Linked DNA regions of Homo sapiens. The protein of the gene in region 2 interacts with the protein of the main gene of each other region in a pairwise test. Each region holds a gene or a part of one and is shown on either strand. Other genes may lie near its edges. The genes, in order: SPG21, ARL8A, UQCRH and MOCOS.

Evidence for each region.
Region 1: the proteins of ARL8A (region 2) and SPG21 interact in binary tests that used the Homo sapiens proteins (3 or more experiments, as listed by UniProt).
Region 3: the proteins of ARL8A (region 2) and UQCRH interact in binary tests that used the Homo sapiens proteins (3 or more experiments, as listed by UniProt).
Region 4: the proteins of ARL8A (region 2) and MOCOS interact in binary tests that used the Homo sapiens proteins (3 or more experiments, as listed by UniProt).

The regions. Positions count from the first base shown.
Region 1 is NC_000015.10:64,986,915-64,994,327, forward strand, and holds the start of SPG21 (maspardin), read right to left. Parts: upstream 3,001-7,413; 5' UTR 2,751-3,000; intron 2,557-2,750; exon of another isoform or gene 2,492-2,556; intron 1-2,491. UniProt on the Homo sapiens protein: May play a role as a negative regulatory factor in CD4-dependent T-cell activation.
Region 2 is NC_000001.11:202,141,735-202,149,372, forward strand, and holds the start of ARL8A (ADP-ribosylation factor-like protein 8A), read right to left. Parts: upstream 3,004-7,638; 5' UTR 2,839-3,003; coding exon 2,716-2,838; intron 1-2,715. Other genes in the region: PTPN7 (tyrosine-protein phosphatase non-receptor type 7), read right to left, coding at 6,872-6,965, 7,501-7,638. UniProt on the Homo sapiens protein: Plays a role in lysosome motility. In neurons, mediates the anterograde axonal long-range transport of presynaptic lysosome-related vesicles required for presynaptic biogenesis and synaptic function. May play a role in chromosome segregation.
Region 3 is NC_000001.11:46,306,692-46,313,713, reverse strand, and holds part of UQCRH (cytochrome b-c1 complex subunit 6, mitochondrial isoform 1 precursor), read right to left. Parts: intron 4,614-7,022; coding exon 4,587-4,613; intron 3,818-4,586; exon of another isoform or gene 3,733-3,817; coding exon of another isoform or gene 3,670-3,732; intron 3,560-3,669; coding exon 3,398-3,559; intron 1-3,397. UniProt on the Homo sapiens protein: Component of the ubiquinol-cytochrome c oxidoreductase, a multisubunit transmembrane complex that is part of the mitochondrial electron transport chain which drives oxidative phosphorylation.
Region 4 is NC_000018.10:36,183,617-36,190,497, reverse strand, and holds the start of MOCOS (molybdenum cofactor sulfurase), read right to left. Parts: upstream 3,002-6,881; 5' UTR 2,959-3,001; coding exon 2,817-2,958; intron 1-2,816. UniProt on the Homo sapiens protein: Sulfurates the molybdenum cofactor. Sulfation of molybdenum is essential for xanthine dehydrogenase (XDH) and aldehyde oxidase (ADO) enzymes in which molybdenum cofactor is liganded by 1 oxygen and 1 sulfur atom in active form.

The DNA.
Region 1 (7,413 bases), on a different chromosome or scaffold from region 2:
AATCTATTCTAAAGGAGGGAAAATAAAAACATGTTTAGCAAATAACATCTACTCAATAGATTTATAAAACACCTTAGCTAACTAAAGCCAGAAAGTGTGCTTCTAGAGTCACCAAATGGGATAAATCATTCATAGCTTTGAAATCAGTTGCAATGCACAAACCAAACCACCATACAAATACACACATACACAGGCACACATATTCACGCGGTCATCCTCTTCTTTCCCATAGCAGTAAATAGAAAGATGTTCCTTACCAACAGTCTTCAGAATAATTCACAACCACCTCAGGATGCCAACGTGTTAAAAGTAATCTTACAAGATGGAGAGATTCCACTCCGCTGTGACTAAATTTTTGTAGAGACAAGTAATTTTAACACTTGTGCTAGTTTGGCAGTACATGAAAGGTAAAATGGATACCAAATGTTGCATCTGACCAACTGACGTCTAAGTGAAAAAAAGATCACTGCTGCAAAGGGAAAACAGCTGTGAGTGGTATGAATAGGAAAGTTTGTTCTCCTAGCTCTCTTTCATCCACCAAAGGGGTATACTTTTCCAAATCATAAGAGGAATATTCTGTATATGGCAAAGGTTAACTGAGATTGTGACCAAACTGGTCAGTACTGAATAAGAAAGAATGTGGACCATGAGCTCAAAACTGATTTTATCTCTCATGATTTTGTTCTTCACAAAAACAAAAGCACCTGTTCATGCTGGTGGGAAAAGAGCCACAATATTAGCCTTAATCTTGCCTAAGGAAAGCCCTCTTCAGGGTGTGCTGTGGACTCCCTGTCTTCTCTGGCCCTTGTGCTGCTGGACAATAAAAACTGCCAGTTGTGGCTGGGTGCAGTGGCTCACGCCTATAATCCCAGCACTTTGGGAGGCTGAGGCAGGTGGATCACCTGAGGTCAGGAGTTCGAGACCAGCCTGGCCAACATGGTGCAGCCCCGTCTCTACTAAAAATACAAAATTAGCTAGGCGTGGTGGCACATGCCTGTAATCCCAGCTACGCAGGAAGCTGAGGCAGAAGAATCACTTGAACCCGGGAGGCAGAGGTTGCGGTGAGCCGAGATCACGCCATTGCACTCCAGCCTGGGCAACGAGAGCGAAACTCCATCTCAAAAAAACAAACAAAACAGCAACAACAACAAAAACAAATTAGCTGGGCGCGGTGATGGGCTCCTGTAATCCCAGCTACTTAGGAGGCTGAGGCAGGAGAATTGCTTGAACCTGGGTGGCGGAGGTTGCAGTGAGCTGAGATCACACCACTGCACTCCAGCCTGGGCGACAGAGTGAGACTCTGTCTCAAAAAACAAACAAACAAACAAACAAAAAAACCTGCCAGTTGTGACTATGCCCCTATCCCTCATGGCTTCAACAGAACCTGCCACTTTAAAGTCAACAAAATCACCTTTATCAATGTTTAAGTCACATAACCAGCATAATTAGTCAGAGGTTTCTGCTACTTTATTTCAATCTATAGTTGATGTGCATTGTGGAAAATCTGTGCTTATAAATACTAGCCATAACAAAATATTAGAAGCTGAGAGTCTCTGGGAGATGCAACTGGCTTTTTAATGCACGTCTCCATCCCTCACCACAGAAGTACACAGCTATCCTTTTCTTAGATCTCTTCAGGGGAGATCTATCCCTCTTTTCTTCATTGCATTATCTCTAAACCTTACAGGAGGAAAAGGTGCCTACCTGACATCTGTGACATCTCTTCTCATGCTCTTGGGAAAAAAGCTTTTGGAATTTGGACACAGCTATTAAGTTACTCCTCAGTGGCCAGCCGCGATGGCTCACGCCTGTAATCTCAGCCCTTTGGGAGGCCGAGGCGGGCGGATCACGAGGTCAGGAGATCGAGGCCATCCTGGCTAACACGGTGAAACCCCGTCTCTACTAAAAATACAAAAAATTAGCCGGGCGTGGTGGCGGGAGCCTGTAGTGCCAGCTACTCGGGAGGCTGAGGCAGGAGAATGGCGTAAACCCAGCAGACAGAGCTTGCAGTGAGCTGGGATGGCGCCACTGCACTCCAGCCTGGGCGACGGAGCGAGACTCCGTCTCAAAAAAAAAAAAAAAAAAAAAGTTACTCCTTAATTTGTTGAATCTTTGTGCCAAAAGGAGCTGAACCAGTGTAGGTGGAGACAAAGGAAGCAGCATAAATGTCTAACTTATAACTCCCCAGGAAAACGAGAAGAGGAAAAATGAGACACTCCGGTCCCGCTCTGTTCCTCATCCCCCGTTTACAAACCTTACACCTGGCCCACACTCAGTAACAACAAAGACATCTATCACTTTCAGGCCGAGGTCCTGTCTCCAAAATTACTGGCCTCTGCTCACAGTTCTTAAAAGTTTGCTGAGAAAAAAAAAAAGAAAGAAAGAAAGAAAGAAATGTTCCTGGGCTGCAGTCGTGTAGCCCCAGGATGGGTTTACAGGAGGATGCCCCGGTTAAGCCCTGTGCCGCCCCCACCTCCCGCTGGAGACTCACACACAGCTCCCCGCCAGTCCCACCGGTGACAGCCACACAAAGGCAGGGTCACAAGCACACCGACCACCCCACAGCCCAGATTCGGCCCCAGACACACACTCACAAGGGCACGTGATCACGTGCGTGGTCACATGGACCGGCCCACTCAGAACACACTCACAAAGTCACACCAACCAAGGCAGCCACGCGCCACACACACACACCTACAACCCCGCATACCGCACACCCAGCCGCTTCCCAGGGCTTCGCCCACCCTCACCTGCCGTGGCCGCCCCCACGTCCCTTCCCCTCCTTCAGGAGGCCGCTCTTCGCTCCAGTACGAGCGCGGGCCGTGGAGGCGGCTGGGCCCGGGTCGGGGCGGGCGGCGGAGCACTCGGGACCCACGGGCACAGCAGGCTGCGCGGTGCGTGCGGGAGGCCGGCCTCTGAGGGGGCGGGGCGCGTGGCCGAGCGAGCTTGGGCCGCCGCGCTCCCCCCGCCCGACCGCCGCTCAGCTGGCGCGAGACTCCCGCTTCCGGGTTCTCAGAGGGCGGGGCCACGTCGCGAGGAAGGGGCGGTGCTGCGTGGCCCCGGCGGTCGCCACGGCGACGGGCGCGGGGGGAGGCTCCGTGGGATGCTTGGCTGCGGCTGGCGTGAGGAGAGGGCTGAGTTACGTCTGGGTCAGCCTTAGTTCTGCCCTACGTACCTAGGAGGAGGAGGAGGTGGAGGAGGCGCCTGGCCCCTTGGGACCTGCTTCTTCTTTCAGTTCGCGTTTTCTCTGTCGTGTACAGCTTTGGAGGGACACCTTTGGGTTCCAGACTTTGATGAACACAACTTTGTATACTCTTTTCTTAGGAACATTTTTTTTCCTTTGGCACAACCGTAGACGCTCTCCGTAGTCCTCCACTCAAAGCCTCCGCTTCCTTTTTGACGTTCTGGGGATTTCTGGGAACATACGCCCACCCATCTTCCTGTTCCTTCATCACTTTTCCCTTAAAATCAGAGAGAATATTAATACATTTGTAATCATTGTTCTTAAGGTGTTGCAGACGTCACGTCTTAAGGTGTTCCAGACTTCACGACTCCTTTTTTATTAGTAAAATATTTCTGAAATTATGATAAGGTGAATAACATGTAAATCTCCTTGTTTTGAATTTTTTTTTTAGGGATCCTGCAACAAGGTCCTGTTGAAAGTGCCTCTCTCTAATATGTTTTAGGGAAAGCTTGTACCCTGTTTTAGGGCCTGTAGACTTTGCCTTTACCTAGGCAACTGTTTATGGGATTAAGGTCAGGGAAGATTCCAACTAAATTGCATCCTACTTAGTTATCACTTCTGTCCCCTGGCCCAGGAGCCTTGGGTTCCACTCTAGAACTTGGACAAATCCCAAAAGCATTTTCCAAAAGCACGGTGACATACTTACCTTTTTCTTTCTTTCTTTTTTTCTCTAAATCATTTCTTTCGGGGTTGCAACTCAGTCGCAGGAATTCATCTTTTATTGTAAGCACCACATAGATGTATAGAGCACGTTTCCGTGGAGTATTTTAAGTTGGGGGCCTTTTCTCCAACATTTGGAATCGTTTAATGGGTGGAATAACTTGCAAACTACTGGTTGTCTCTGAAACTGGTTATGGATATTCATTACATTAGTTGTCTATTTTCCCAGGTGGTCTCGAAGCTTCAATCTAGAGCAAAGGGAATAGAGTGATTCCACCAGTCCATTAGCACATGATTAGCCCATAAATAATAGGTACTAAATGTATATTGATTGTAATCCCAGCACTTTGGGAGGCCAAGGTGGACGGATCGCTTGATTGAGCCCAGGAGTTCGAGACTAGCCTGGGCAACCTGGGAGACCCTGTCTGTACAAAAAAATACAAAAATTAGCCGGGCGTGGTGGCGCATGCCTGTAATCCCCGCTACTCAGGAGGCTGAGATGGGAGAATCTGTTAAGCCCAGATGTCGAATCCACTGCACCACATCCTAGGTGACAAAGCGAGAGACCTTGTCTGCTCCCAACAAAAAACTATATTGAATGAATTAATGAGTGGAATAAATAAATCTATCCCCATTTCCACATTTGTTCCTAAAGCTGTATTCCTTAGACCCCATCCCTAGACCCCATTTAGTAACAGCTTTAATGAGACCTAATCTATGGATATACCCGTATGTTAAAAGTCATTGTTCTGTTAGTGTGGTAGTAAACTTTGACAATTGACAATAAAAAAAAATCACTATGTAGATATGTTTTGTTACATATCAACTTTTATTACAATGTAGACCAATCCAAAAATAATAAATGTTTTACTTCTTTCAGGAAGGGAAACCATGGTCATGTTTGTGTCCTCAGTTGTTCCATAACACATGGCAAGCACATTGTCCCTTTCCTAATCCCAACAAAGAACATTTAATATCTGTGAATTCCAGCTGAATTGTAATGCACAAATTCAGGCAGCAAACTTTTGATTCAGGCAGGTCCCAGTGCAGGCTGACCTGGTAGACATGGCTGTAAGGATTTGCAGCTGTTGTGGCTGGGGTCTGCCAGATGGTTCCCACAGCACCAATTCATCTGTGAGAATCTCACAGAAAAACTGGAATGTTCACAAAATATGCTGTGAACACCAAGCAAAGTAAACAGATGGCCAGCTGGCTCTCAGAATTACCCAAACCCGGGCTCTGTCCCTCTTAATTTATCTTTTCACAGGATAATATTTGTTTGAAAACACACAAAATAATCCCAGATCCAGAAATATCCCTATGCATGTGTATACATAAGTGAATGCACTTTTTTTTTTTTTTGAGACGGAGTCTTGCTCTGTTGCCAGGCTGGATTGCAGTGGCACATCTCAGCTCATTGCAACCTCCGCCTCCCGGATTCAAGCTATTCTCCTGCCTCAGCCTCCCGAGTAGCTGGGTCTACAGGTGCCTGCCACCACACCCAGCTAATTTTTGTATTTTTAGTAGAGACGGGGTTTCACCATGTTGGCCAGGATGGTCTCGATCTCTTGACTTCGTGATCCTCCCGCCTCGGCCTCCCAAAGTGCTGGGATTACAGGCGTGAGCCACTGCGCCCAGCTGTGAATGCACTTTTTAAAATGTTTGGAGAGGTATGTACCAAGCAGCTAAGTGATTACCTCGGAGGAGGAACTGGGGATGGAGGGAGTGGTGAAGAACTTTGACTTTGGATTTAATAGTTGAGTTTATATTAAAATGTATTCATATATTATCTGTGTGATCAAAATAATTAAAAGCAGCCAGGCATAGTGGCTCATACCTGTAATCCCAGCACTGAGGGAAGCCAAGGCGGGTGGATCACTTGAGGTCAGGAGTTCGAGACCAGCCTGGCCAACATGGCAAAACCCCCATCTCTACTAAAAATACAAAAATTAGCCGGGTGTGGTGGTGCACACCTGTAATCCCAGCTACTGGGGAGGCTGAGGCAGGATAATCACTTGAACCCACCTGGGAGGCGGCAGTTGCAGTAAGCTCAGATCATGCCACTGCACTCCAGACTGGGTGACAGAGTGAGACTCTGTCTCAAATAATAATAATATTAATAATAATTAAAAGCAACTATATTTCTGTAATTCCTCTGCTATAAATCCTTCAATAGCTCCCCACTGCCTTCAAGCTAAAGTTCAAGGTATGCAGAGTAGAGCAGGTCTGGCTCTTGACTCAGATCTCTGTGGGGCCAAAGTGCTCTAGTCATACCAACTGCTTGAAGGGCCCCAAACACCTCCTGATGTCTCAGGAAGCCTCTAGGCTTTTGTATATGCCTTCCTTCCATTTAGAATGCCTCCCTCCAGTGCACCCATTAGAGTGAAAACATTTATTTTACCCCCAGGAACCACGGATGTGTAAAAAAGTGAAAGAGAAACAAAACACTTGCTTTTTCAGACTAATACTAATTCTTGGAATACCATCCCCTTAAAGCTTTACAGGGTACAGTCGATTGCAGTGTTATATACCAAATTATGCTGAGACCCAAGATTGAAAATGAATGCTCTTTCCTCATTGCCAGACCAAGTCTATGTAAAATGTATACTGCACTGGATTGGAGGAATCAGACACAAAGTGGGTATTCAGGAACTGGCTTAGAAAAATGCTGATGTGGCTATTTTAGAGGTTACTACCTAAAGGCATTATCAAACAGAAGTTATATATAGTTATTTTTAATTAATAATGTATTAGTTGTCATCTAGGAGTTCAGAAACCTGAGTTTTATCTTTGAGCAAAACATATCCTCTGCTAGGTCTGGTTTCCTTCTCTGTAAAATGAGGCCAAGGCTAAACTAAATTATCTGTAAGTTCTTTCCAATTCTAAGATTTTAGATTTTATAAATTTATAAGAGATTTGTCAAAGAATCTTTACAGCTGGGCGCGGTGGCTCACGCCTGTAATCCCAGCACTTTGGGAGGTTGAGGCAGGTGGATCACCTGAAGTTGGGAGTTCAAGACCAGCCTGACCAACATTGAGAAACGCTGTCTCTACTAAAAATACAAAATTAGCCAGGGTGGTGGCATGTGCCTGTAATCCCAGCTACTCAGGGGGCTGAGGCAGGAGAATCGCTTGAACCCGGGAGGCAGACATTGCAGTGAGCCGAGATCGCACCATTGCACTCCAGCCTGGGCAAAAAGAGCAAAACTCCATCTCAAAAAAAAAAATAAGGATCTTTACATCTTTACAGCAGTCTTTCCTCAAAGCTGCCCTTCTCTGATAATATTCCTCCTCCTTCTTGCTTCCAATCAAACTTTAAAAAAAAAAAAAAAACAGGCCAGGCACGATGGCTCATGCCTGTAATCCCAGCACTTTGGGAGGCCGAGGTGGGTGGATCACGAGGTCAGGAGATTGAGACCATCCTGGCTAACACGGTGACACCCTGTCTCTCCTAAAAATACCAAAAATTAGCCGGGTGTAGTGGCGGGCGCTTGTGGTCCCAGCTACTCG
Region 2 (7,638 bases):
AGACTAGTTATTCCATAGGACAGTCTTTGACACTTTTAAATATTTGAAAATGACCCTGTTGTTTCCTAGGACAAAACATCTCCCACTTTTCTAGCATCACAACTTTTTCAGAACTCAAAGGATGTTTTAGGTTCCTTTTTTTTTTTTGAGACGGAGTTTCGCTCTTGTTGCCCAGGCTGGAGTGCAGTGGCGGCACGATCTTAACTCACTGCAGCCTCCGCCTCCTGGGTTCAAGCAATTCTCTTGCCTCAGCCTCCCAAGTAGCTGGGATTACAGGTGGCCACCACCATGCCTGGCTAATTTTTGTATTTTTAGTAGAGATGGGGTTTCACCATGTTGGCCAGGCTGGTCTCGAACTCCTAGCCTCAGGTGAAACCCCCACTTTGGCCTCCCAATTGCTGGGATTACAGGCGTGAGCCACCATGCCCGGCTGATGTTTCAGGTTCTTAGAAGCAGTGTATATAATTTCTTTCCAGCTCACATTAACCTGCTGAGCAGCTAGACACACTAAACTCAATTTCTATTTACAGCCAGACCTCATAGGGTGAGTAGAAAAAACCCAATGGCGAAAGATCTGAGACAAACAGAGGCCAAATGAACAGGCACAGGTAATTCAGAAATTCAGTGGTAGGCATGGGAACAGAGCCCAGGGGTCCCAACTCTTCGTTTCTTTCTGGAAGACACTCAACTGTGATTATACACGGGGTGGGCAGCAATGCCAGTGTGGTAGCCCCAGAGGATCTGAAAACACTGGAGTGACCGGGACACTGGAATTCCAACTGCAGCCCACATGGGGTGGTTTTCCTTGGGAAGCCTCTCTAAAGAAGGGAATTTAGCTTGCCTGCTCTTTTAGAATGTGCCAGCGGAAGTGGCAAATTTAAGATTAAAAAGGGGACCTTGTGGGCTGGAGATGGGGTGCTTTTCCTGTATATCACAGGAACTCTTGACCCTGGCAGGGGAATTTGGGACTCTTGGGTTCTGTTTCTGGCCTGCTATAGTCTCCAACTCTCTGGATATGATGCTGGTCTAGAGGGGGCCCTCCTGTCAAAGGCTCAACTGCAGACCCAGAAACCGAACCCACCCGGGTACCTGTGGATCCCTGTCCCAGAGCACAGCTATAGTAACACCCTGGGGAACGAGGAGATACCTAGGCCCAGCTGCATTTCTCAGACCTAAACGCCTAGAACCCAAGCCACCTAGGCCTGCAGAGTCAGGTCAGAGTCCAGGTGTTATGTGCCTGCTCTGGGAATCCAAGAGCCTAAGTCAATGCCAAGTTTAACCAGAGGGTCTCTGACCCCAAGGGCAGAGCCTAGGCAGACAGAGCCCAGGGGTGTTAGCTCCGAAAATTACTGTGCCAAAACCGCAGCATTGGCCTGAAGATCCTGCCCTGTCAGGTCAGGAGACAGGAGACACTGGGTCGAGAAAGGGCAGAGGTCATTTGCAGAGCATGTTTGGGAAAGGAAGCCAGTGTTCAATTGTGTAACCACAGGATGCCCGCCCCTCGAGCTTTCCATCTGCCTTCATGCCTCAGGTCCAATGAAGTGACGTCCCCTGCCTTCTAGGACGCTGAGAACTGTCGAGGAGGCCCATCTTCTGCAAGGTGGGGCAACAACACGGACAGGTAGAGGTACCTAGGCCGGCTGGATACATTCCTCTGCTGACCTATCTCATCAGTATCTTTGGTTACTATCTGGCCAACTCACAGTTGTGGGAAACCTCAGCTTTGGGACTGGGGCCAGGTCCCTGGACAACCCCAGCCCCTGTCCCATGCTTCCTCGACCCACAAGCCCTGTCTAGCCTGGCTCTGACAGGCAGGCCGCAGCCATTACGGCAGCCTCAGCTCACACCCATGGAGCTCATCTTCCCCTTTTTTGAGAGAGATTTTAACTCCTTCCCCACCACTCCCCTGGCGCTGAAAGACTTACAATCACCCACTTCAGTGTTGACGACCCAAAGCCCTTAGAGCCACTCTCCCAAGGCCCCAGTGGGCCGTGCCCCTACACCTCATCCTCTCTTGTCGGGAGCACCTGCTCCTGCAAACTTCTGAGCCAGACGGAGTCTCCAAACTCCCGTTACCATGCGATCCTCCCTGGACCCCCGGCTAGACACTGCGGGTCGGGGAGAAGTTGGGGAGGAGTCTGGGCTTGAGCCAAGGGCCTCAGCTGACTCCTCTACCCCGGGGGATACCTCCCCTCCCCCTCAATAGGGCCGGGGCTTCCTCTTCCGGCAAGGAGGGGTTAAGCCCTCTGGGTGGGGCTGGGCTTGCCCAAACCCCCTCCTCAAGCCTCTCGGCCGCCCCGTCCCGTGACCCTCTACCCGCGGGACAGGAAGGCCCGTGCACTTTCGCCCCGTCATGCCCCCTTGCGCGGGGGCCAGAGGGGGCCCGTCTCAGCCGGCAGCGGGTCCCTCCTGCTTCGAGAGCCCCTCGGTGCCGCCTGCCCCGTGGCACCGGCCCTGTCTGTTCGTCCCCCTTCCCCTGCCCCCAGCCGTGCAGTACCGGCCCGGGTGAGAGAGCGGGTCGCGCGCCGCCCCGGTCCCCCACGGCACGGGCCGTACTAGGCCCCAAGCGCTCGGGGCCGGCTCCTCCCCCGCCCGGCGCCCGGCCGTGCCCGGCTATGCCAGGCGGCGACCCCGGCTCAGCAGGGCGCGGCGCGGGCGGGGACAGGCCCGACCCGCGGCCCGCGCCCGGGGACCCCGCGCCCGACGCCCTCGTACCGCGATCACGTTGACGAAGGTGGTCTTGCCCGAGTACTGAAGCCCGACCAGCGTGAGCTCCATCTCCTCCTTCCAGAATAGGGCCTTGAACCAGTCCAGCAGCTTGTTGAACAAAGCGATCATGGTCGCTGCCGCCGGCCCCGCCCGGTGCCAGGTCCCCGCCGCCCCTCGCTGCCCTCGCGCTGCGGCCCGGAGCGGCCCCTCCCCGGTACGGCCCGGGTCCCGCGGCTCGGTGCGGGCGGAGGCTCGAGCGCGGCTGCCGACGACTCGCTGCCCCGGAATCGGCTCGCCGATGGGTGTGGCTTCCGCGCCCTCCTCCTCCGCCGCCGCCGCCGCCCTCCCTCGCGGCCGGGCCGTGTCCTGCTCGCACCCGAGCGCGCGCTCCTCCCTCGCTGGAGCCGGGGGGCCAGGGGCCGCACCCGCAGGTGGGGTGAGCAGGGAATCCGCAGGTGGGGTGAGCAGGGAATCCGCAGGCTTCAGCGGCGGGGGTTGACCGGCAGCTGGCGTCGAGAGGCGCTTGGGAAATGGGGTCTAATTTATTTTAGACCCTGTCCCCGACTGCCGCGCCCTGACTGGCACCCCCTTTCTTAAAGGGTGGTGGGCTCGAGGTGGGTGAGGTTCCGGTTAAGCAGGAGCCTTTTCAGGTTGAAGGAGAGTGGGTCACCCACTTCCCAGGACACGGAGATGAGATCTCTACGACAGGGAGGCAGATGGAGGCTTTTTTGTCCCTGAACCCTTGCCTCTGAGCATTCCTGGGTACAGTCCCATCCTCTCAAAATGCACCCAGTGCAGAGGGACAACCGTATTCGGGTCTTTTAATACTCCATCTTGTTTTGTTCACCACAATTTACCCCGACCACTTGTTAGGAAGCCTCTGGCCCCAAGTGAAACGGACGCTTGAACTTGCTCCGGATTTTTACCAGCATCCCCAAGATACCCAAACAGATACAGTCCTGGCAGGGGGTTTTCAGTGAGGAACGTCTGTGACAAAGGAAAATGTTGCCCTGTTTTGGTGAAAAGCAGAGTATTCTTCAGGAGGAGAAGTGATAGTTCTCCTCTTGAAGTGGGTCTGGAGTGCCTGCAAAGATGCCTTACTCCTGCCCCTCTCCTTGCAAGACCCACCCATAGGACCTGCTCAGGCAGGCTGACAACCTCAGCTGGCAGTCCCGGGTAGGCTCAGGCTTCGGGCAGTCCCCAGCCTATGCTGGCTGCCCGTTGGGGTTTGGTTTTCAAATGTAGTCATATGTAGTCTATTGTTTTAGTCAAAAGTGGGTAAACTATCAATATCAACCATATCTGTCCAATCAACTGGAGTTAGATGACCCCAAATAGTCAAACAGTTACCAAAGTAGAAGAATCACAAGGTTTCGGCTAGCATAATATTGTTTTTTTTTTTTTTTTTGATGGGGTCTCACTGTGTGGCCCAGGCTGGAGTGCAGCGGTGGGATCTCGACTCACTGCAGCCTCCACCTCCTCGGGCTCAGGTGATTCTTCTACCTCAGCCTCCCGAGTAGCTGGGACTACAGGCATGCGCCACCATGCCAGCCTAATTTTTGTATATTTGGTAGAGACGGGGTTTTGCCATGTTGTCCAGGCTGGTCTCGAAGCCCTGAGCTCAAGCCATCTGCCTGCCTCAGCCTCCCAAAGTGCTGGGATTACAGGCATGAGCCTGGCCAATATTCTGGTTTATTAAGCACCATCTTTCTAACCTCTGCCCTTTATAAGTCCTCCTCTAGCTCCTAAGATAAAGGCTATGGACTGAATGTTTGTGTCCCCCCAAATTCATAGGTTGAAGTCCTAATCCCTAAAGTGATGGTATTAGGAGGTGATTAAGTCATGAGGGTAGAGCCTTATAAAGGGGGCCGGTGGGATTAGGGGGAAGAATACCAGCCCACAACCTTTTCACCATGCAAGGACAGAAAGAAGGCTCTGCCTAATAGCCAGACACTGAGTCTGCAAGGGTCTTGATCCTAGACTTCCCAGCTTCCAGAACTGTGAGCAACACATTTCTTTTTTTCTTTTTTCTTTTTTTTTTGAGATGGAGTCTTGCTCTGTCATCCAGGCTGGAGTGCAGTGGCATGATAGCTCACTGCACCCTCCACCTCCAGGGTTCAAACAATTCTTCTGCCTCAGCCTCCCGAATAGCTGACTACAGGTGTGTGCTACCACGTCCGGCTAATTTTTTGTATTTTTAGTAGAGACAGCGTTTCACTGTGTTAGCTGGATCTCCTGACCTCGTGATCCGCCTGCCTCGGCCTCCCAAAGTGCTGGGATTACAGGCATGAGCCACCACGCCAGGCCAGCAATACATTTCTGTTGTTTAGAAGCCACATGGTTTACGGTAGTGTGAATTGTTACAGCTGCCTGGGTAGGCTATGAGGGTCCACCCTGTCTCACTTCCTAAATTGACTTTGGTTTCACCTTACTTTATGTCCTTGGAAGTGCTAGAAAAGTGCATATCCCAAGGGCAAAGATTTGCAGCCTGCCTGTCCCTGGTCTGCAGTCTTTCTCTCTTGCTACAAAGAGGCCCCAGAGGGCCAAGAAGAAGATGGAAAGAAGGAATGAGTCAGTCATCCAAGAAGTCTTTATTTTCCCACTTGGTTACTGTTCTGGAGCTTGTACCCTCTGAGCTCTGAGATGGGGTTGGGGGGACAGTGCCAGGGAGGGCCTGTGGGGCTGTGCAGTTGCTTCCCTCTGGGCTGGCTCTGAGCCCAGGGCAGGATCAGGCACTTGAGAGCCCCCCACCGAGCCTCATTGGCATAGACAGTCGTGCCTCTCACAGGGCTCAGGGGAGGTGGAGGTGTGGGCAAGTCCATCCCCAAGGCTGTAAGGAAGGAGCAGCTCCTCCATAAGGCCAAGCAGAAGCATTAGGGAAATCATCCTCAGTTTTAGCACTGCGTGTTCTTCAGGAGAGAAGTCCTGAGTGAGGAGGCCCAGCTGTTCTCCAGATCCAACTCCTCGGGGGTTTCCACAGAGAGCTGGTATCAAGGCAGCTGTCAGGGGCGGCGTGCCTGGTGATGCGGCATCTTACCTTCATCCCCATCTCAGAATGGGCAGCCAGTCTCAGATTCAAGGAGGAGGAATCCTGAGGTGTGGCGTTCAGTCCTGAGGTAGACCTGAGGTCCCCTGGAAATTGTGTTGATGCTGAGATGGATGAGGGGTGCTCATTCTCTCAGGTAGACAGTGAGGAGTCCTGGTTCAGCCGAGCCTCCATGTCTGCATGGATGGTTATGACCCTGATTGTTTTTGGAAACAGCCAAGCTCTCTAGGTGTACTCAGCAAATGCAAGGTATAGTGGGTCCTGCATACCCAGGGTATTATTTGAGCCATGGAAGCAAAACAGAGACTGCTTAGCCTCCCTAAGAGTAGTTGGTGGGAGTGGCCAGCAACCATGGAGGCAGGAGCAGCTCCTCTTTGCCTCTGAGTAGTCCCCACATGTTCCCTCTTCCAGAGATTTCAACTGCCAGGCCTGGTCACCTCTGTAGCCTACTCTTATGACACATGGGTGGAGGCAAGGGTAACCAGAGTCCTTGTTCTTTCTTTTGATTGGGGTCATCCAGCCCTTCCGATGTGTGGTCAGGGAGCAGAGTCACTGATAGGATGTTGAGACTTGGAGATCAGGACCAGACTTTTCCCCATTCTTGCATCTGGCCTGTGCTTGGGCAGGACCTCGGGTGAAGGATGATCTTGGAATCACCCTTTTGTCAGCCCCAGGAAGGAGTGGCTGGAGTGGCTTCTAGAAACTTCTCTCATTACTTTTCCCTCATGGCAGCTAAGCACTTATGTTCATGTTATAGAACAGGAAACTGAAGCTCACAAAGAGTGTCTCAGAGAACACCAGGACACCTGGGCTTCTTTCTTTGTCTGTCATAAATGCCAGCTCCTGTCTTTAAGTTCAGAGAGACATTGGAGGTTCCCCTTACTGTCCATCTGGGGCCAACAGAGGAAGCAGAGGAGTGGCCAGTGTTGAAGACCTGGAATCCGGCCCCTTGTCCTTACTGCTGCTGCTTCCTGTGACTGCAAGCACCACTAAGGAGGCACTCCTTCCCCACACCAACCCAAGGGGTACCCCCAGATCACTCGGCCCACTTTCCCCAGACCCACCTTCCCAGGCTTGAGGGAGGTAGGCACCTGGGCCACCGGAGGGTGGCAGGGGTCAGGGGCTGGGTTCCTCAGGCAGCTGGCCTGCATACAGGGCCAAAGTGTGGTGCAGGAACTGGTACTGCTCTGCCGTCTGGATCATCCCCCCTCTGCAAGGAGAAACACACAGACCATGAGTGAAGGAGGGTCAGGGTGCTGGCTGAATGGCTCCAGTCAAACATCCCTGTGGTCCTACTGGGAAAGTCCTGACTTTCTCAAAGAACATGCCAACTCCTTTGCCTATATTCATCTTTTCACTTTTTTTTTTTTTTTTTTTTTTTTGTGAGACAGAGTCTCACTCTGATAGCCAGGCTGGAGAGCAGTGGTATGATCTCAGCTCACTGCAACCTCTGCCTCCCAGGTTCAAGTGATTCTCCTGCCTCAATCTCCTGAGTAGCTAGGACTACAAGTGCCTGCCACCTTGCCCAGCTAATTTTTGTATTTTTAGTAGAAACAGGGTTTCACCATGTTGCCAGGGTGGTCTTGAACTCCTGACCTCAAGTGATTGGCCCATCTTGGCCTCCCAAACTGCTTGGATTGCAGACATGAGCCACCATGCCCCACCACCTATATTCATCTTTTCTACTTTCTACTCCTCATTGCTGCCCCTCAGATCTGCTGTGAGAGAAGTCCTCTGCCCCTTACACGTGCTGAGGGGTGATGCCCCATGTTGACACTTGGTCTTCCTTGATCCACTCAGCTCCTGGGACAAAACCAGATCTCTGAAGCCTTGGGTCGGGCCAGGAATACTCCTGAGCCTCAAGTTTCCTTCTTTCTAATAAT
Region 3 (7,022 bases), about 160 Mb from region 2:
TGTGAGCCAGCTTGCCTGGTTATCTATATCTATCTATCTATCTATCTATCTATCTATCTATCTATCTATCTGTCTATATTTTTTTGAGATGAAGTCTCGCTCTGTCGCCCAGGCTGGAGTGCAGTGGCACAATCTCAGCTCACTGCAAGCTCCGCCTCCCGGGTTCACGCCATTCTCCAGCCTCAGCCTCCCAAGTAGCTGGGACTACAGGCGCCCGCCACCACGCCCGGCTAATTTTTTTGTATTTTTAGTAGAGATGGGGTTTCACCATATTGGCCAGGCTGGTCTCGATCTCCTGACCTCATGATCCACCCGCCTCCGCCTCCCAAAGGGCTGGGATTACAGGCGTGAGCCACCGCGCCCGGCTTTTATATATATATTTTTTGTAAAGACAGGGTTTTACCATGTTGCCCAGGCTGGTCTCAAATTCCTGGGCTCAGGTGATCTGCCTGCCTTGACCTCGCAAAGTTCTGCGATTACAAGCATGAGCCACAGTGCCCAGCCTAGCTGATGGACACTTATGTTGTTTCCACTTTTTGGGTAGTATAAATAATGCTTCTATGAACATTTGTGTACAAGTTTTTATGTGAACATATGTTTTCATTTCTCTTGGGTATATATCTTCGAGTGTAATTGCTGTGTCATATATTAACTGTATATTTAGCCTTTTGAGGAACTGCCAGATGTTTTCCACAGTGGCTGTACCAATTTACACTTTTACTGACAGCGTATGAGGTTTCCAACTTTTCCACATTGTCGTCAACACTCGTTATCTTCTTTATTATAGCCATCCTAGTGGGCAGTTGGTATAAAGTGTTATCTCATGGTAGTATCCCTGGTGGCTAATGATGTTGAACATCTTTTCATACGTTTACTGGCCATCCAATTAGTTTTAATAGAAGCAACCACATCAAACTTTGCTTATGTATAATTTATGTAAAATACCTTACTGTGTTATATGTAAGAGTCAAGCAGAAGTTTATTTTTATTTTTTTAATTTTGATTTTTTAAAAGTAGAGACAGGGTTCCCCTATCTTGCCCAGGCTGGTCTTAAACTCCTGGGGTCAAGGGGTCCTCCTGCCTTGGTCTTCCAAAAGTGCTAGGATCATAAGCGTCAGCCACTATGCCCTGCCTGAGTTTACTTTTAAAAAACAACCCCTTGAGGCCAGGCATGGTATCTCACACCTGTAATCCCAACACTCTGGGAAGCTGAGATGAGTGGCATGTGTGAACCCAGGAGTTCTAGACCAGCCTGGGCAACACGGCAAAATCCCATCTCTACAAAAAATACAAAAATTACCCAGGTATGGGCCAGGTGCGGTGGCTCACGCCTGTAATCTCAGCACTTTGGAAGGCTGAGGCAGGTGGATCACTGGAGGTCAGGAGTTCAAGACCAGCCTGGCCAACATGGTGAAACCCCGTCTCTACTAAAAATACAAACAAACAAAAAATTAGCTGGGTGTGGTGGCGTGCACCTTTAATCCCAGTTACTTGGGAGGCTGAAGCAGGAAAATCGCTTGAACCCAGGAGGTGGAGGTTGCAGTGAGCCAAGATTGCGCCACTGCACTCCAGCCTGGGTGACAGAGTGCAACTCAGTCTCAAATTAAAAAAAAAAAAAATTACCAAGGCATGGTGGCATGTGCCTATAGTCCTGGCTACTCAGAGGCTAAGGCAGAAGGATTGTTTGAACCAGGAGGTAGAGGCTGTAGTGTGCCATAATTGTGCCACTGCACTCCAGCCTGGGTGACAGAGCAAGCAAGACCTTATCTCAAAAAAAAAAAAAAAGGCTGGGTGCAGTGGTTCACACCTGTAATCCCAGAACTTTGGAAGGCTGAGGCAGGTGGATCACAGGGGTCAGGAGACTGAGACCATCTTGGCTAACACAGTGAAACCCCGTCTCTACTAAAAATACAAAAAAACAAAAACAAACAAACAAAAAAAAACAAAAAAACCATTAGCCGGGAATGGTGGCGGGCGCCTGCGGTCCCAGCTACTCGGGAGGCAGAGGCAAGAGAATGGCGTGAAGCCGGGAGGTGGAGCTTGCAGTGAGCCGAGATCGCGCCACTGCACTCCAGCCTGGGCGACAGACCAAGACTCCGTCTCAAAAAAAAAAGCAACCTTTTGGACCAACTACTATATATTAGACACATTTGAGGATACAAATTATTTTTTTTTTGGCGCAACCTTGGCTCACTGCAAGCTCCGCCTCCTGGGTTGACGCCATTCTCCTGCCTCAGGCTCCCGAGTAGCTGGGGGCTACAGGCGCCCGCCACCACGCCCGGCTAATTTTTTGTACTTTAGTAGGGACGGGTTTCGCTGTGTTAGCCAAGATGGTCTCAATCTCCTGACCTCGTGATCCGCCCGCCTCCGCCTCCGCCTCCGCCTCCGCCTCCCAAAGTGCTGGGATTACAGGCGTGAGCCACCGCGCCCGGCCAATACAAATTATTTTTAAAGAACAGTCTGTTATTGAAAAGTACAAAATCCAGCTTCCCCACTGTTTAGTGGTGCATGTTGGGATGTTTATGTTTTTTTCTCTGAGCCTCAGTTTCTATCTGTGAAATGGGATAATGATACCTATCTCCAGTGGAAGTAGTAAGGATTAGGCAAGATTATTATTATTATTATTTTTTTTTTTTTTTGAGATGGAGTCTCGCTCTGTCGCCCAGGCCAGACTGCGGACTGCAGTGGCGCAATCTCGGCTCACTGCAAGCTCCGCTTCCCCGGGTTCACGCCATTCTCCTGCCTCAGCCTCCCGAGTAGCTGGGACTACAGGCGCCCGCCACCGCGCCCAGCTAATTTTTTGTATTTTTAGTAGAGACGGGGTTTCACCTTGTTAGCCAGGATGGTCTCGATCTCCTGACCTCATGATCCACCCGCCTCGGCCTCCCAAAGTGCTGGGATTACAGGCATGAGCCACCGCGCCCTAGGCAAGATTATTTATAGGCCAGGCACAATGGCTCATGCCTATAATCCCAGCACTTCAGAGGGCCGAGATGGAAGGAAGGATTGCTTGAGCCCAGGAGTTTGAGACCAGCCTGGGCAACATAACAAGGCCCCGTCACTAGAAAAAATTAAAAAATAAAAAATTAGCCTCTCATGGTGGCATGCACTTGTAGTCCCAGCTACTTGGGAGGCCAAGGCAGGATCACTTAGGCCCAGGAGTTCAAGGTTGGCACTGAGCTACGATCATGCCGCTGTACTTCAGCCTGGACAACATAGTGAGACCCTCTCAATAAAATAGAATAGGTTATTTACATAAAATGCTCAGCGCACCATATGTCACATATATTGGGCCCAGAGTAACTGATGGGCCTTTCCCTAGCATGGAAAGATTGTTGGCACCAAGTCTTCCCTGACCATTGCAACCTTTCCCCTTCCTGACTTCCCACTGACTTACGCAATGGTCCCTCGCATGCAAGAAGTCAAAGAGCTCCTCCGTGCAATCCTCTTCTGTATGTGATCGAGAGGATACACGCTCATCACAGAGCTCTAGCCGCTCCCGGGCCTTTACACATTTCTCCAACTGCTCGCATTGCTCTCTCACTGTTGTTAGGGGATCCTGATGTAGAAACAGAAAAAAAACAAAATGGGCATTTTTAGCAGAGACCCACCAAACACATATGCTTTGATTAACACAACCACCAAACCAAGGTGCTGCCTCTGAATTACCGTGCAGAAGGCCAGCTGGCAGAGCCACACTGCCGCCAGAAATGGCAGAATGCGGTCTCCCATTCAATTCTGATGCTAAGTAGTAGGGAAAAGTTTCACATTCCTGCCTTCCAAGGTTGCCAGTATGCACTGAAAGCCTCAGTCCTATCTGAAAAACAAGGTGGTAAAGGAAACCTGGCCAAACTTGAAGTAGATCTATAGGAGGCCTTACTTGTTAACACAGCATTTTGGAATATGACACGTCTGAAACTTCAAATCCCCTTGTCTGAGAACCAGGCCTATGCACCCCAGCTGCCCAACTAGAAAGGCAATGCTAACATAGAGAAGGACTATCTAACAAAGGTTCCTTCAGAGTTCTTTTTTTTTTTTTTTTTAAGACGGAGTTTTGCTCTTGTTGCCCAGGCTGGAGCGCAATGGCGCAATCTCAGCTCACCACAACCTCCGCCTCTCGGGTTCGAGCAATTCTCCTGCCTCAGCCTCTCGAGTAGCTGGGATTACAGGCATGTGCCACCACGCCCGGCTAATTTTGTATTTTTAGTAGAGATGGGGTTTCTCTACGTTGTTCAGGCTGGTAATCCGCCTGCCTTGGCCTCCCAAAGTGCTGAGATTACAGGCACGAGCCACCATGCCTAGCCCAAAGTTCTTTATTAAACCACAAATAGCAGATGATTGAGTGCCAGGCCCTCAAGATGCCATCTGCTCCCTGGTACCACAACTGAAGAAGCCCCAAACCCAGAACAGACTCAGCTTCCAAGGCTCACACCCTAAACTCTCCACTGCACAGGAAGTATCAAAGCTTATTCCACCCCCATTATCTACAAGGTATCAAGTAAAAACTCCTTAAAATGCCCTTAGAATTTCATGAAGCTCAAACCCTGCTTTTACTGAGATGTTTCCAAACCTGAGACAGTTCTTACCACTAATTCCTCCTCTTCCTCTTCCTCCTACAAAAGGAAAACAAAATTAATGTCAGCAGCAATTTTATGACATATTTATTCCTGATCATACTGATGTAATTACTGACGATAGACACTGACACTATTAACGATGTTATTTTGTTTTCTGTGTTTTATGATGTTTTTACATTTTAGAGGCCTTGCTAATCCTGGAGCTAATCCTGCTCTTCCAGGGCTAATTTTTAGACAGCAAACTTGCCTGCGAGCATACCTTTCATATGCAACGTAACTATCCAAAGTGCTTGTAGCAAACTGCCTCCTTTATCTTTTGTTTAAGAGACAGAGTCTTGCTCTGTCATAGCTCACTGCAGCCACAAACTCCTGGGCTCAAGTGATCCTCCTGCCTCAGCCTTCTGAGTAGCTAGGACTATAAGCACACGCCACATGCCTGGCTAATTTAAAAATTTTCTTTGTGGTAGAGACAAGGTCTCATTATGTTGCCCAGGCTGCTCTCAAACTCCTGGGCTCAATCAATCCTCCTACCTTGGCCTCCCAAAGTGGTGGGATTATAGGCATTAGCCACTCAGCCTGGCCCTGCCTCCTTTATCTAAGTTTTGTACACTAAGCTCCTGTTTCCCCTTCTCTAAATCACCCCAGGGACAAATATAGGACAACTAGGAACCAGCCCTATAAGCTAGAGCCCAACGAAATTATTCAAACTATCCAATCCTAAATTTGAGCAAGTGTACCTACGCTGCCCACCAATTCCTTCCCATAGAAACCAAGGTGCTGAGCCATGCTTCCTTCCCCTCATACCTTCTGCCTCCTGACGAGCTCAGACACTTCCCCATATAGCTCTGCATTTTTTTGTGTGGCATATCCCTCTCTTTCAGGAAATTTAAGTAATAATAAACTCTTCTTTCAAAGGCGGTTGTCTCCAGGTCTGTCACCTTACCATACTTGGTTAAAACGAATCCCAGGTATATTTCAAGACAGAGACACCATCTCACTTTCATTAACAAGAACCTAAGTGTGCTTAATACTCTCCAGTTTATAAAGCACCTTCATATCTCTTATGATTTAATTAATCACAACAGTCCCTTAAGGAGGTAATCCCAGTTTAGAGATAATAAACAGTAATTAGACATTTTCTGATACAGATTCAAGCTGCCAGATGTTCACATGGGGCCTACATAATCTAAAGTATTTGTCCCAGTATTGCTACAAATAGCAAAATTTAGTCCTTACATCCCAAACCAAGTTAGGAGGAAAACCCATTTTTTTCTAGACTGTGAACTTGAATTAGGAATATGAAAACTGCTAAACCTAAAAACCCTTGTTTGGTCAGAGCTTAACTAAGGATGGTTAGTCACTGCTTTTTGGCTTGCTGAACTCCCAGAACCCCTAGTAGACTAAGTATATCAAATAAAAGTGCACAACTCCACTCATGAGCTTGGAAATACAGAACAGACCCCACCTATTCACTTCTGATTCAAATGCACAACCTCAAACTTAGTTTCCTTCTTCTTCAAGGATAGTAGTGTAAAAAACTGCCCATGGGAGCAACAGTTTAGGCCTAAATTTGGGATATAGTAAAATCTGACCTCAGAAATAAGGTGTTTGCCTGCCTGTGCATGCAGATACCCACATTTGGGGGCAAGGAAAGAAAAGGTATCTAGGGAAATAAAAAGAACTAGCTCAGGAATCATGTTTTCAGAACTCCAATACAGGGCCAGGTGAGAGGACTGCTTGAGACCAGCCTGGGCAACATGACAAGACCCCATCTCTAAAAAAATTAAAAACAGGCTGGGCATAGTGGTTCACACCTGTAATCCCAGCACTTTGGGAGGCTGAGGTGGCCAGATCACCTGAGGTCAGGAGTTCTCAATCAGCCCGGCCACCATGGTGAAACCCCGTCTCTACTAAAAATACAAAAATTACCTGGGCATGGTGGCACGCGCCTGAAATCCCAGCTACTCAGGAGGCTGAGGCAGGAGAATCACCTGAAACCAGGAGGCAGAGGTTGCAGGAGCCAAGATCCTACCCCTGCACTCCAGCCTGGGCGACAGAGAGACTCCGTCTCAAAAATAAATAAATTAGCCGGGCATGGTGGCGCACGTCTGTGGTCATGGCTACTCAGAAGGCCGAGGTGGGAGGATCCCTTGAGCCCAGGGGTTTGAGGCTGCAGTGAGCTATGACTGTACCACTGCACCCCAGTCTGGGTGACAAGAGTGAGACCCCGTCTCCAAAAAAAGTCCTAATACATGTTTCATCCTCTACCATGCCATTCAGTGAAGCCACCAAAGCTCATACAAGCTGGGAGTGAGGGGTAGGAAAGGTTCAATTTGGAATCCAGGCTATTTATTCTCACAATTGGCAAAGGTTTCTTCTAAATATGAAGATGCTATTTAGGATGTAAATTCTAGTTTTTCATTAACAAGGTTTCTTAATGCTGCT
Region 4 (6,881 bases), on a different chromosome or scaffold from region 2:
GATTACAGGCTTGAGCCACCATACCCAGTTTGTGCTACACACTTTAAACAACCGGATCTTGTGAGAACGCACCCTCACGAGAACTGCAAGGGGGAAATCCACCCCCTTGATCCAATCACCTCCTACCAGGTCCCTCCCCCAACACTGGGAATTACAATTCAACACGAGATTTAGGTGGGGACACAGAGCCAAACCATATCAAATGTATGAGCTAGTCCAAAAAGATACTTTTAAAACAATGTTCGCTTTTACTAAAGATTCAGAAATACAAAGGTACCAAACCAAAAGAAAGGCTTTTGTTCACCCAGGCATCAAGGCCACAGGTGAGACCTGGAAGCTGCTGGGGAGCATCTCACACTGTGCCACAGTCTTCTGGAGGGCCAAGTAGCTATTGGAGAAGAAGATGCTTTGGCTTTTGGTCCAATGGTTAATTTTGCAGGAAAAACAAAAGGGTGGGAAAGCTGTGTTAAATCACCCATAGATGTGATGTTAGGAGAAAGTCAGGCAGCATAGGGGTTAACAGTACAAAATCCAAGTCAATCAACCCAGACTTGAATCCTGGCTCCACCAGTAGCCATTCTGGGCCCCTGTTCTTTCATCTGCAGATGGGACAAAGGTTAAATGAGCTGCTATATGGCAGCATCCAGTCCAATGCTCGGGACACAGGTGTAGCTGTTATTAGAAACAGGTGAATTACCCCAAAGTTAAATGGCATCAGACCTTCTTCAGGAAAGAGAATTCCAGGGTCAGCTCTAGGTCATCCCCCTCCAGTTCTCTTTCCAGCATGGTGAGTGGTCATGATTCAGCACGAAGGCTTCCAGAGACCCTTGACACACATCCGTATATTCAATACTCTCCCTTCACAAAGGCAAGGAAGTTCCCATCCAAATCTTTAGGTAACACATTTCAGCACTTAAATCTTAAGCATTTAATTATTCTGAGCCACCACTTAACCAGAGTAATTCTCAAATTGGCAGAAAAACTTCATGAGGGGAGAGGAGGAACGAGGAAGAGGTGATGTTATTTTGGTTTGTTTTTTCCCGCCCTCTCTCTGTCTTGTTTCTAGGAGAAAAACAAGTGGACATGTTCCAAGACTCCCAGCAGTGGGAGGGGCGTCAGATTAGTGCACAAATGTCTGCTTTAACCGTAATGTAGAGGAAATACAAGGAACTTGCATTAAATAAAAGATGCCCACAACACTACCAGACATACAGTAAGTGGTAACGAGTTCTGAGGGCCAGCCTGGCTGACACATCCCAATTTTGCATTTGAGGGGAAAAGTACTGTTCTCTGAGGGACAAGAGTGAAACCAGGAGGGGACCAGAACATAGCTCTACTTTCCCAGGGTAGCATTGAGGGGAGAGGTTGGCCAATAGTGGGCGTGAGAGATCACAGCTGGAGGAGATTTAGGGGATTAAGGAGGTGCGGTGCTGATATAATTACTCAGGTAGCCTTGAAGAGTTGCTTCAAAGAATGGAGAGCCTCCCTCCCCAGCACCTGTAGGCATTCATAGTACCCCTCTATTTCTGAGTGGTAGGAAATTTCCATAATTAATAGTTGAGAGAGAGAGAGAGAGAGAGAATACGAAAGAAGGGTGAGGAGCTGTCTCCAGCAGGTGACCCTGCGAGAGGGAAGGATGAGGAGTGAATAGAGAGGTTGGCAGAAGGCACCCCCGTCTCCCTCCTGACTCTCCCTACTTAGGAAGCCAGAGGAGACACACAGGAGGAGGCCACAGTTCTCACAGCCCCCAAAGGGAAAACACAGTTACCCTCCACAACACCAGGAAGTGACCCGAAGCGCTGAAATCAGCTACCCGAGTAGTGAAACCTAAGTCATGGTTGCTGTTCTGCCCCCAGAAGGGGAGCAGTCACCAGTTGTTCATCGCGACAGAGCAGATACACTCAAACCCCGGTGCCCTGTGCCAAGACGTGCCCACTTCACCTGCACACCCTCCTTGACCATCCGGCACGCGGCCCTGGGGCTTGATGAAGCCCTGCACCCAAAGTCCCTGGCAGAGGGATGAGTCACGAACTTGGGCCCTGGCAGCAGAGGGCTGGGTCGGCCAAGGCCAGATGGAGCTTGATTTGCAATTTCATCAGCCTGTTCCGCTCTGAGGAAAGGCACGATGTGATCTTGGTGTTGTCTAATTCACAGGCTCGCCCTGTTCTTAAAGGTGAAATTGCACTGTTTGCTAATTCTTCTAGTCCCCCAGAGAACTGGAGCTCAGAGGGATTGTTCTGACGCTGTAAGAGTAAGGAAAATGAGGTTTCGAAAATCAAAGCTGAATACAGGCTATCCCAGAGGAGTCTGCAGAGCGCAGCCTCGGGAGGCCCCGGCCAAGAGGCCTTGGCCTCCCGGTCCCAACCTGGCGCGCCGTCAGAGGTGCTGTCCCAGCCCGGGCGCTGGCGGTCCACGCACCGCTCCTACCTCGGGAGGACATCCGAAGGGTCACGGCCGCTGGACATGCTGTCTTTTGCAACCCCGGCCCCAGCAGGCCCTTTACAGTGAGGGGTCTCCCGCAAGAGAGGGCAAGAACCATCCTAAGCCCCGCTCGCGGAGGGCGGGAAAAGGGGAAGACGGCTAGGTTGGTCCTGCCCACCGGAAAGTCGGAAGAGTAAGAGTAGCAAGAAGCCTTGGGGCTGCAGGTGGGACCTCAGGGAGCCGTGTCTACTAGGAGGACGCGTGGACACGTCCCTCCTGGAGTTTCGATTCAAAATGCGCCCGAATGAGGTAGCGCCGCTCTCACTAGGAGCAAAAGATCCGTCCACGTCGGTTCCAGAAACCTCGTGTCCCCCAAGCCTGCCCGCCCGCCTCACCTGCCAGGCGGCTGAACTCGCGCGCCCGCAGCTCGCGCAGGCTGCCCGGGCCGTAGCCGTAGGCTAGCCGCGGTGCGCTCGGGTCCCGGGAACCCGCGAAGGTCCACAGCTCCCGCCCTGACTCCGCCGCCGCGCCGGCCATGGCCCCGGCTAGTCCATCCAGGCCGGCCGGGCCCGGGAAGTGCGCGAAGCCGGCCCCCGGCGACTCCGCCCCCGCCACGCCTCCCAGGCCTCCAGCCTCCCAGTCTCTCGGAATCCGCAGCCTAGGTGTGGCGCCCCGACCGGACTTTCACTTCTGGCCAGCCCTTTCCCCACCTGGGCGCGGGAGCGGGTGCCAGTCTTTAAACAACCTCTCGATGGGTCCCACGAAGATGTTTCCAGACCCTTGGAATGCCAAGTTCAAGTTTAGCTATGTCTCGCGGAGAGGCCGGTGGAAGAAGCAACGAGGTGATCTTTCCTGCTTGGCATCGGCATCCTGGAACCCCGCGACCCTCCTCCTCGCAGGGGTCTCGGGACCCTCACCCTCTCAAGCGGGAACCGGCGTCTGGCGGGGGCGGGGGTGGGGGCGTTCTCGGGTTGCTGCTACCCAGCGGGGCGTGTGCTTGCCGTTTGTTAGAATGCGGCTGACCAAAGGGTAGAAAAGGGGAAAGATTAGGGATCCACGAGGCTAATAAATTCTCAGTGGCTGCACACTTTCGGAACCGGGAAGCTCGGGGGCTTCCCCCGGAGCGGGCCCTGCAGCTGGGATCCAAGTGAGCTGAGCTTCCCCGCCCTCCCAACCGCGTCCTGGGCCCTACTTCCTGCCCTTGCCTCCCCAACCCTGCATCCCGCCCCGCACTTCCCGCACGTGGGTGTGGCCGGGCCCTCTCTATTAAAGCAAGAGTGCCCTAGGACAAAGCCGCCCCTGTCCCGGACAGAGTGGAATAAGAGCGCCTCCTTCAATCCCCACTCGCGCCTGCACCCAGAGCACCTGGGACACAGCGGCTCTGTCTTGGAGAACAGGTGCCTCAATAGGGAGGGCCTGGCCAAACCTATGCGCGGGAAGTGCGGAGCGGGATGCAGGGGTGGGGCGGCAGGTGCAGGTAGTAGAGCCCAGGCATGCGGTTGGGGGGTGGGGGGAAATCTCACGTGCGATCCCAGGTGCGGAACCCGCTGCTGGGAATGGGGTGGAAGCAAAACAGGTACTGCACGCACAGGCGAGGTGCCTCGTGGGGGAATCGAATGTCAGGGATGGTGGACAGTGCGGATGGGCGGCAGGTGCTGGGGCTCAGGGGAGATAACTCAGAGGCAGGCTCGGTGGAGAACCCAAGGCCGGCGACCAGGTGCAGGCGGCCCACAGGCCCTGGAGGCATACAGCGGGGGGACAAGGTGGGAAGGAGGCCTATGCCCCAAGAGCTCAACCTGTGCTGCATCCAGGCCAGCTGCCACCCAGGGTATGGGCCGCAGATGCCCTAGGATCCTTGCTGATGCATGATGCATACCGGTGCCCAGCGTGAGAGCCATGGGAAGGCAGCACGCAGCCCTGGCTCTCCCGCCCAGGCCCCTGATACCAGGCCAGAGAAAGACCCGCCACTAAGAGCTCATTTCCCCCTGGCCGGAGACCCAGGGGTCTGTGGACTGCAGCGCTAGGGTCCATGCCCAGGTACCCATATTCCTCAGTGGCCTCTGCCCACTGACCACCCCCGCTCTCTCCCTCACTGCTGAATGTCCAGGACCTTACTCGACAAACACCCATAGTTGTTCGAGGAGGAGTTAATGTACTGATGGATGGATGCAGGCATTTGCTCATTGACATCACTGCCCACCCCACCATCTGCTTGCCTTCTGGCCATGCTTCAAGCAGGCACTTTGGATACTGGACTGTCTTCTGTGAATGTGGCTTTGGGCAGCACTAATAACAAGAGCTAGTTACAGGGCCTCACTGTGTGCCAGGCACTGCACTGTGTACACTCTTACCTGTCCTGGTCGTTCAATGATTAAATATGCAGATCTAGGAGGTGGCTCTTACAGATGGGGAAGCTGAGGCAGAGAGAGGCAGAATAACTTGCACACGGGCACACAGCTAGAAGACAAGCTAGCACCTGGGAAGTCAGTCTCCAGAGCCCAGGCAGGGAAGTGTGTTTTGCTAACTCTCTGGTGTGAGCCACCGTGGTTCCCAGGGCCTCAGTTTCCCCATCTAAGTTGAGAGGGGTGAGTTGGTCCTCCCAGCAGCTGTTCAGTGTGTCACTCCTCACCCATCCTTTTAAAGCCCTGCTTCCTGGTGAGAGTCTCCCCTAGGCCAGGGTTTCCAGGCATTCATTTGCATGAATCCCCTAGAGAGCCTATTCAAAGGCAGGTTCTGACTCTTTGAGGTTCTGTGTTTCTAAGTAGCCCAGGTGATGCTGATGCCCCATTCACGAATGGCACTCTGAGGAGGGAGGGCCTAGGTCATTTCCCTGGAAATGTAAGGAGAACCTCTCCTCAAGGAGTTCTACAGCCAACTAACAAACCACCAGTCCACAGGGGTGCTGCTTCAGACAAGCTCGCCTAGTGATGGATTGGAATAGGCCAAGTCAGTGCAGAACTCCTGAAGGTTATTAAAAATCACGGATCTACCATTAATCCAGAAATACTTTAAAGCAGTTGGCTATGCCCATCTAGGGCACTGTGTGCTTGGGAGGGTGGATGTGAAGATAGCACCTACAGCTGAGTAGGAAAATGAACCTACACTAGCCACAAGGCAATGTGGGCTGAGTGCCCAGGCAGCACTGGTTCAGGATGCAGGTATAGAATTGAAAGAGAGGAAGCGGCTACTTCCTAGCAAGATATCCAGGGAAGGTAGCCCAAAGGAGGAAGCCTTTGAAGTGGGCCATAGCAGTGAGCCAGTCAAGATGGGAGGAGGAGTAGGGAATGTGAGAAACACTGGGAGTCTTGGCCTCTAATTGGCACCCTTAGGTGCATTTCACCAAGATTCCCTGGGCCGCTCCTACCAGAAAGAGACTATCAGAAGTCAGATTGCTCGCTCTCACCCTGCCTTAAGCAGAACCTCTATCCCCACCAAGGAATGTCTGACCTGGGAGGAGGAGTGATCTCCTGGGCCCTGTGCTATAGGCTGCCATGGCCACTTCTCACCTGGTCCAGCTGCTGGCCTTGGAGCTTCCAAGCAACCTGAGCTGGTCCATGCTGAGTTCCCCAGAGGCCAGCTTCTGCACCTAAAGTTTACAGCTAGGTAGGAAAACAGCTCTTCCAACTCCCACTTGCAACCCTTTCTCACCTAAGAACTTGAAAAATTATGTGTCTATGAGCCAGTTGGGCAGACAGGTGAGATGCCCTCAATTTTGTACTTTAAATCTCTCCCCGTGTGAATCTTAGTCCCTGGTGCACCTCACTGAGCCTGATTCCTTACCTCCTGATGATGCTTCCCGAAATCCCCTTGCTCCCAGGTTAACAACTCCCACCCCCAGTGTCTCCTAGCAATGGGCTCCACTTGCAAGAATCTCTACTATATACAAAGCATTCATTCATGTATTCATTCATTCATTCATTCATTCACTCACTCAGCAGAAGATGAATGAGTGCTTGTCAGAGTTAGGCTTGGAGTTGGTGGTAGACAAACAAAGGAAAGGCAGGCTTTGGAACTAGAAAGTGCCCTATGAGTGATTTAGGTAGAACTATCCAATGGCCATGACCAGACTGGATGAGCCTGTGAGAATTGGGAGCAGGAAAACCAGCTATAACCTCTTGCAACTGTCCAGGCTTGAAACACTAGAAGATTCACTTGAAAATTACTAGTGCTTTTGGCAGGGGCATTTATTCAGTGTTCACTGGGCAGCTGTGCCCTGCTGCAAACATGGTAGGCACTGAGAAGACAACAGTCAGCAAGGCAGTCTCTGTGCCTGAGAGGCTCCTGGGATGAGGAAGGAGATAGGTTCATAGTCAGGTCACCCCTCCAGGCTGCAGAGCGCTAGAGAAAAGTCCTTCCCACAAAGGTCCAGGCTTGGGGTAAAGAGCCTCCCAGACCTGGGGCTGCTGGGAGACCTGCCCAGAGGGTCCTGGAGGAGGAGGTGGGGGAAGGAAGGCAGCATT